2 linked regions of the Homo sapiens genome follow. The protein of the gene in region 1 interacts with the protein of each later gene in a pairwise test. Each region holds a gene or a part of one and is shown on either strand. Other genes may lie near its edges. The genes, in order: B3GALT2 and GNPTAB.

What was found.
Region 2: the proteins of B3GALT2 (region 1) and GNPTAB interact in binary tests that used the Homo sapiens proteins (3 or more experiments, as listed by UniProt).

The regions. Positions count from the first base shown.
Region 1 is NC_000001.11:193,184,743-193,188,667, reverse strand, and holds the start of B3GALT2 (beta-1,3-galactosyltransferase 2), read left to right. Parts: upstream 1-2,054; 5' UTR 2,055-2,649; intron 2,650-3,925. UniProt on the Homo sapiens protein: Beta-1,3-galactosyltransferase that transfers galactose from UDP-galactose to substrates with a terminal beta-N-acetylglucosamine (beta-GlcNAc) residue. Can also utilize substrates with a terminal galactose residue, albeit with lower efficiency.
Region 2 is NC_000012.12:101,824,199-101,828,123, reverse strand, and holds part of GNPTAB (N-acetylglucosamine-1-phosphotransferase subunits alpha/beta precursor), read left to right. Parts: intron 1-3,925. UniProt on the Homo sapiens protein: Catalyzes the formation of mannose 6-phosphate (M6P) markers on high mannose type oligosaccharides in the Golgi apparatus.

The sequences.
Region 1 (3,925 bases):
AAAGAATAATAATTATTTAGTCCTTTCCTGGAGAAAGGGGTAGGGAATGTCTCTAAATCAACTTTGTATCCCCTATACTTAATAAGCTATGCCTAAATGCACATGTTGGTACACAGTAGTTAATCAATATGTACCTGTTGAAAAAGTGAAAATATAAACATTCATTTATTATTCTATTAATGATTCCTGGGTATGCTGCGCCAGTGTTCAGAAAAAAAAAAAATCCCACAATTTCTCTAGCAGTGCCATGTAATAAAAAGTTTAAGAACAGAGAATAATGATAGTACTAGATAGATTTAAAAAGAAAACAAAAACACAGAGGATAAGAATTTAGATAATCTTGCTTCAATTCCCAGCTTGGCCTCTATTCTTATCAGTATTTATCTGACATTTGGACTATTTTACAACTCCAGGCACTGGTTCTGCATCTTTTAAGTGGGTATTACAATAATAAAATTATTAGAAAAGAGCCATTTGCATAACAGCTCAAGTAAGCTTAGCACGCAATCTGATTTTCAGTAAATACTCCATAAATGGTCATTGTGGCTAGCTTCATAGTCAAATCCTATGTAAAGAATCACTGATAAATAAATACTGATCTACAAAAACACATCTGTACTTCTGGAAAATAAGTTATTTTAAGTAAGTTCTTAAGCATTACTCTGTTAACTAGTAAACTAATTTTAAAAACAAAACGGTAGTGAGTGAGAATTGCAGTATGGGTGGATATAGACTACAAGGAAGTTGGGTTTTAGTCCTCTCCTTCAAACTTAACTAGGAAAAGTCAAAGCTCAGTCTAGGCTTTAGGTTTCCTATTTATAAAATTCTTTTTTTTCTTTAACGATCCTTCTAACATTTCTAATACAGTGGGGTTCTTAAAACTACAAAGCACATTTCATCAGCAAAGCTCAAAAATATGTGGACAAAATTTTTTTTAATATCAGAGAAAACAAATTCATATTCATTTGAAATAGCATATATTAATGGTGGAGGCAGTGAGATGAAGAATATGTATATAACTGTTAACCTTTAGCTTAAGCTCCAAAACTATAACTTTCTAGGACTGAATTACTGTCCCTAGAGTCACAGAGGAAAAACTGATAATAAAGGCTTTTTACTACAACAAAAAATTTAAAAAAACCTTCCCTACTGCTCTGCAGTAAGAAAAGAAGGTGCCAGCCCCAGAAACTAACCATATTAGAAAAATCTCAGTGAGTGTGTAGTGTTAATAAAATCTGCCTCATGGCAAGTTATTAAATCTTTCTGAAACATTAGAATAAGTAAACATAATTAGTAAAATCTCATTACCCCCAGATCCTGTACAAGTGTGCTATATCTATTACATCATTTTACTGAATTCTACGATACATGTAATTTTAAAGGGAAGGAAAAATAAATAAAAAATAAATGACAACATTAAAAAGTGATTTAAAATAAAGTTTTCTGCCATCAAGAACACCAAAAACCACATAAGAGCAAAAAAGAAGTGGGCTGTATCACATCATGCATTAGTAAAGTAATCCAAGACAGCTTATTTATACAAACCCCAGAAAACGGGGGGGGGGATCTAAATTACAAAGATACATGGTTTCAATAGAAACCATAGGTCTTAACTACATATTAGTAAAAAATCAAGAGCAATTTGAAAGCAGAGAAAAAAAACTTCAAGAAGAGAATGCACTGAAGGGGTTAAATTACACCAACTTACACACAAAAGCTTATACTGCTTACACCCTACAAAAGCATGTAAGAAACATGAAAACCAACATCTAACACAGAAAACACTTAGAAAGCCTGTACTTAAGAATAAAGTTAAAAAAGGAAGTAAGCTGGAAAAAATAAAATCATAACCATTTCATAATCATCACATTTTCAAATTATTCACTCATCACTACACTTGCATTCAACATATATAATTTATCACATAAAAGCAAAATCTCTAAGCTTCTCCCTACCTTAGGTTTTTAGTCAAAATGAATGCAAACAATCACGTGGGATTCAGCCAAGCAGTGACGTTAAATTCTGCTCTGTCAGAGAGAGCATCTGTCAAGCCCACATTTAAACTGCTGCCTGCCTGTGCAGCAGCTGAGGAACCGTGGATTTCATATTATAGACTAAAACCCCATTAAAACTGCTCAAAATCCTTCCTGCAGCTGCCAGGCAACAACGAAAGAAGAGAGGTAAATCCTATTCTTTTCCAATACAACTGAAGCACTACATTTTAGCTCTGGCTGCTTTACATTGCAGCTCAGTGTTATTAGTAGAAATATGGATACTGAGACGAGAACACAGCACTGCATTGTCCAGCCAGGAAAATAGCAGATGTAAAAAGCTTCAATGCATCAACTGTCGGGAAGAGTCAACAGTGCTACAAGCAGAACGGGCAACTACAGCTCTTTTGTTTAACGAAAGAGAGAAAATGAAAGAAAGGGAAAATTTCAGAAGACTAGGACCCATATGAACAAGGAGGGTAACTCGAAGACAAGCAGACAGATGGACACTTTGGATACTGTGAAAAGCAATCGCAGGAGGCAGACTGTTGGGGGATGTGCGCATGTTCGATAGCATCTTTTTTGCTGAAGTGATGGCGTGCCAAAAGTATTTTCAGTGGGCATAATCCTCTTCACATAAATGGCCTGACCAAGGAAGGTATGTCAATATCTTGTGTATGATAGTCATTTAAATGTGTTACCTTTTTATAGCCCTGGAGGCACTAATACCTGATAAGCAAGTTCATACAGCTCACTGCCCTTGAAACTATGAAAAGGTTTCTTAATATCTGATTTTAAAATTTGTCATTGTTTAGAAGACAAGCTGTCACTGCTTTATGCAGCTAAATATGTAGCTTGGAGTAATTCTGGGTAATAGACATCAGAGGGAAAAGGCAAATAAGAAGAAGATGTGTTTAAAGGATTCCTTAAGAAATTAAACTTAAAAAAAAATCTGTAGCCCTTTACAAAAAACACAGCAATATTCTATCAAATTAGGTCAAACTGAATCCTTATCTAGTAAATTAAATGCTCTCTTAAAAATGGCTATCAAAAGACACAATGCAGTGAAATTTCATTAAATAGTAGCAAGGAAAACCTTAAGAGTTTTTTTTTCAAAGTCCTTTTAAAACAAAACCTTAATATGTAACAGCTTTTAGTAACAAAATCTTCCCCAACATCTCCCTAAATGAAGATAATGAACACAACCAAAGAGAGTATCAACAAATTTTAAATATTACCAAGCTACAAGAAGATACTAAAAGGAAAGCATTAACATAAGATCACATAAGGTAGTGTGAGTTTATGCATAACCCCACAATAGAGCCTCGTGTTATTATAGTGACCATGAATAGAACTTTAAACAAAGGGACATCAATAGTGGCTTTAAAAATTAACTATTTTAAATAGCTTACATTTTATGTAAAAGACTGATTCCAAATGATCAAATTTAACGTTGTCTCTGATTATCATTTCAGAAGTGAAATTCAAAAACATAATATGGAAATACTTTGATACAAAAATATCCACAAATGGCAATACAAGGTCAAAAAATTAAATATAAATGTAGCTACTATGCTTCCAGGCTATATTAATATGCAGTAATGAACTACCGCCACTATATGTGTGTGCAGGGCACAGATAAACCAAATAAACTATTTTAGCAACAATCATAGAACAGCAACTCAGGGCTCAAGAACTTAAAGATATTTCTAAAATTCTACAAATCTATCAAAGATCCTGATTTTTCCTCAATTTCACAACACAACTCAGTAATTATCTAATAATCACAAAAGGCAAACATTTTTTAAAAATATGTAAGTACTGCATTCCAAAATGAAGATTAAACAAGTTTACCAGACTCTATTACACCTCAACATCACTCTCACCCATGAATTTTTATTCTAATAAAGACTAATAATAAATAGTACTAAAAA
Region 2 (3,925 bases), on another chromosome or scaffold:
TAAACCTTATTTTGAAATATATCCTTGAATCAGAATACTTTGATCATATAGTTAATATTACCAACTTGTTAATAATCTCACTAATTGTAATGGATTGTAAGCTCACTAATTGTAAGTCCTTTTGGACTAAGAAGATCATTGTTTTTTTTGTTTTGTTTTGAGATAGAGTCTCACTCTTGCCCACGCTGGAGTGCAGTGGGGTGATCTCAGCTCACTGCAACCTCCACCTTCCAGGTTCAAGTAATTTTCCCTGCCCCACCCTCCGGAGTAGCTGGGATTATAGGCACCCGCCATCACGCTAGACTAAGTTTTTGTATTTTTAGTAGAGACAGGGTTTCACCATGTTGGCCAGGCTGGTCTCAAACTCTGGACCTTAGGTGATCCGCCTGCCTTGGCCTCCCAAAATGCTGGGATTATAGGTGCGAGCCACTGTGCCTGGCCCTCAGAAGATCATTGTTAACTGTAAATTTGTTATCGTCTCCTCCTCTCAATATAACAGGTATTTGATGCTGTATTTTGATAAGCCTTTTCTATATTCATCCAAACTTCGAGAAGTAGAATTGAGGGAAGGAAGTATCAAACAAAACAAGCTGGGTGAGGTGGCTCATGCCTGTAATCCCAGGACTTTGGGAGACTAAGGCTGGAGGATTGCTTGAAGTCAGGAGTTGGACAAGCCTGGGAAACAAAGGAGACCCTGTCTCTACAAAAAAAAATAAAAATAAAGGCTGGGCGTGGTGGCTCACACCTGTAATCCCAGCACTTTGGCAGGCCGAGGCAGGAGAATTGCTTGAGCTCAGGAGTTTGAGACCAGCCTGGGCAACATGGCGAAACCCTATCTCTGCAAAAAAAGTAGAGTAGTCCCAGTTGCTTGGGAGACTGGGGTGGGAGGATCACTTGAGCCCTGGTGGTTGAGGCTGCATGAGCCGTGATTGCACCACTGCACTTAAGCCTGGGTGACAGAGTGAAACCTTGTCTCAAAAATAAATACATAAATAAAAAAAGTTAGCTAGGTGTGGTGGCACATGCCTGTAGTCCCAGCTGCTCAGGAGGCAGGAGGCTGTGGCAGGAGTGTTGCTTGAGCCCAGGAGTTTGAGGTGCAGTGCCTGTGATTGTGCCATGCACTCCAGCCTGGTAGACCTGGTCTCAAAAAAAAAAAAAAAAAAAAAAAAAAAACAACTCCCACAGGGAGAGCCTTCAGAATGGGGACTAGTGGTCACAAAAATGCATTGCCTTGGACTGTAGGTAGCAGGTAATCAGTCTATTGTAAATTAGTTAGCTCCACAAATGGTGTTACTAGATTGACTGCTCTTAAGATCCTTTTTAGCTTAGAAACTTCTGGTTTTTAAATAATTTGTTCTCTGTTAGTTGCTACTGTATAGATTTTAAAACGTGTTTTTGAGTTAAAATTTATTATTTCAGGGCCATCATTATTTAATCGAACCATTTATATACAAGTCCACAATTCTTCACACTCAGGAAAATACAGACTATACCTAGCCTCAAGTCAGTTTAGTCATTTTGCCACCAAATAAGTACAGGGCAGGTCAAGTTTAGTTGCCAAATAAGGTACAAAAAGATCTCTAGGTAGGGCTGGTCTGTTTTGAAAAAAAAAAAAAATTAAAAATCAGAAAAATAAAATTAAAAAAATTAAAAATTAGAAACAAAAAGTTGAAAGCCCCTCCAGTATTCAGAGCATTTTGGATTTCAGGATTACTAATAGAGGGTTGTAGATCAGTGTGTATATGTGTATGTGTATCTGTGTGTGGGGGTATGGTGTATGTATAACGTATCACTTCCTTTGTGCACTAAGTATGGAAACAAATATCCAAGAATTAACTTGCATAAGGAAGCAAAATAGGTTCACATAGAATCTACTCGTAATGAATGGTAATTTTTCCGTGACCTCTCTGCTCCCTTTTGCTTTCCTGCTTTTCTGTTGCCATTTTGAATCAATGAGTTATTTTCTGTGAAAAGGAGAATTGAAAACTGGGTCTAGCTCAAGTTATGTTCAGCCTCAGTGGTGACCAGTGTCTTATACTGGCCTTATTTCAAGAAATTAGTTATCATTTTTGTATTTGATTAGTTCACTCATTAAACAGATATATTTGAGTGTGTTCTTGGCCAAAGGCAACAAACAGATGAGTTAGAAAGAGGCCTGGCCTGAGAGTGGGGACCGTCTGGCCTGCTCCTAGGTGCAGCACAAATTGTGATCCTCAGTGGTTCCCAAACTGAGTTACTCCCAGCTGCCTTGTGGGTTGGGAGTAGCCCCTCTTATCTATTTCGTGTGGACTTGTTTTCTGGGAAAGGTTTCATTGTTTAAAAAATGTTTACAAACTATGAGACTATATTTCTAAGAGCCTCATTTTAGCTTTAATGTTTTGTGAATATACATTTATTGGATACTTCACATGAGAAGCATGACTTGTAATGGATTTTATACTAGAGATGCCAATGGCCACACAGAGCCTTTTTAAAGGGTCTCTTTGTTTTGGGGGGTTTGTGAGAGGTACATAGTCCAGCTAACTATCAAAGTAGGGACCTTGTCTTATTCTCTGCTGTATTCTTAGCCACTAGAAAGTGATTGGTACCCAGTAGATGCTGAATAAATACTTGATGGATGCATGAATGAATGGATTGATTAATTGGGTTGATCTTAACTGACATCCTTTCAAATTTATTTCAAGTAAAGGTAAATTTTTTGCTCTGATGTAGCGTTTATAGTTCCCTTTTATTTCTCAAATGTGATTGATCTGATATAACTTGAACATTTTCATGCTCTGAGAGTCATTCCTGCTCTGGTAACTTTCTCTAAAAATCTGAGACCTGTTGTTAGACTGTACAGTGGAAGATGCTGTCGTCAGAATATACAGTGGAAAATGCTGTCAGAGATACAAATAATTATAGCTCATGCCTTTGGCTATTGTTTAGTTGAGATGAGGCCAAGATGTATGTATGAGGACTGAATAACAACACAGGGGAATAAGCAATTGAATGCCTGAGTTAGTACACAACAATTGCTTAGAAAGTCAGAAGACAGAAGAATGTTGTGGGTTGAAACATCCTCGAGGCAGTTCTGACACCTTTTCAAGGAGGCATGAGCTTTAGGGAGGCTTCATGGACAAGTAGGAGTTTAAACAGAAGAGAGACAAGGAAAGATTATTTTAGGAAGTGGTGGGAGTAATTTTAGCATAAAGTTGGTAATGTCAGAGAAGTTTGTGATCGCTTTTTCTTTTTGAATTACTAGTGGTTTAACATTGCAGCTAGAATTAGTTAACAGCACTAGGTTGCAAGTGACAGACTCCCAACTCAGACCTAGCTTATTAACTAGTTTATTATTAACCAGTTTGTTAACTGGGATAATTGAAAAATATAGGATGAGGCCAGGTGTGGTGGCTCATGTGTGTAATCCCAGCACTTTGGGAGGCCAAGGCGAGTTCGAAAGCAGCCTGGCCAACATGGTGAAACCCTGTCTCTACAAAAAATACAAAAATTAACTGGGCGTGGTGGTGCATGCCTGTAGTCCCAGCTACTTGGTAGGCTGAGGCAGGAGAATCGCTTGAACCCTGGAGGCAGATGTTGCAGTGAGCCAAGATTGTGCCACTGCACTCCAGCTTGGGCGACAGAGTGAGGCTCTGTCTCAAACAAAACAAAACAAAAAGGTTAACCAAAAAAAAAAAAAAAAAAAAGAAAATATATATATATATATATATATATATATGGTGAAATTTCTGGCAGGAGTGGATCGAGGTGCTCAAATGATGTCATCAGGAATCTCTTTTTGTCCCTGTTTCTCACCTCTGCCTTCCCCTCTTTAGTTTACTTCTCAGCAAGCTCTCCTCATATGAGAACAAGGATTGCTGCTGGCAACCCCACCTTCTGTTCTACCAGTTCAGTAACTGCAGCAGAAAGATAGCTTTTCTTTCTC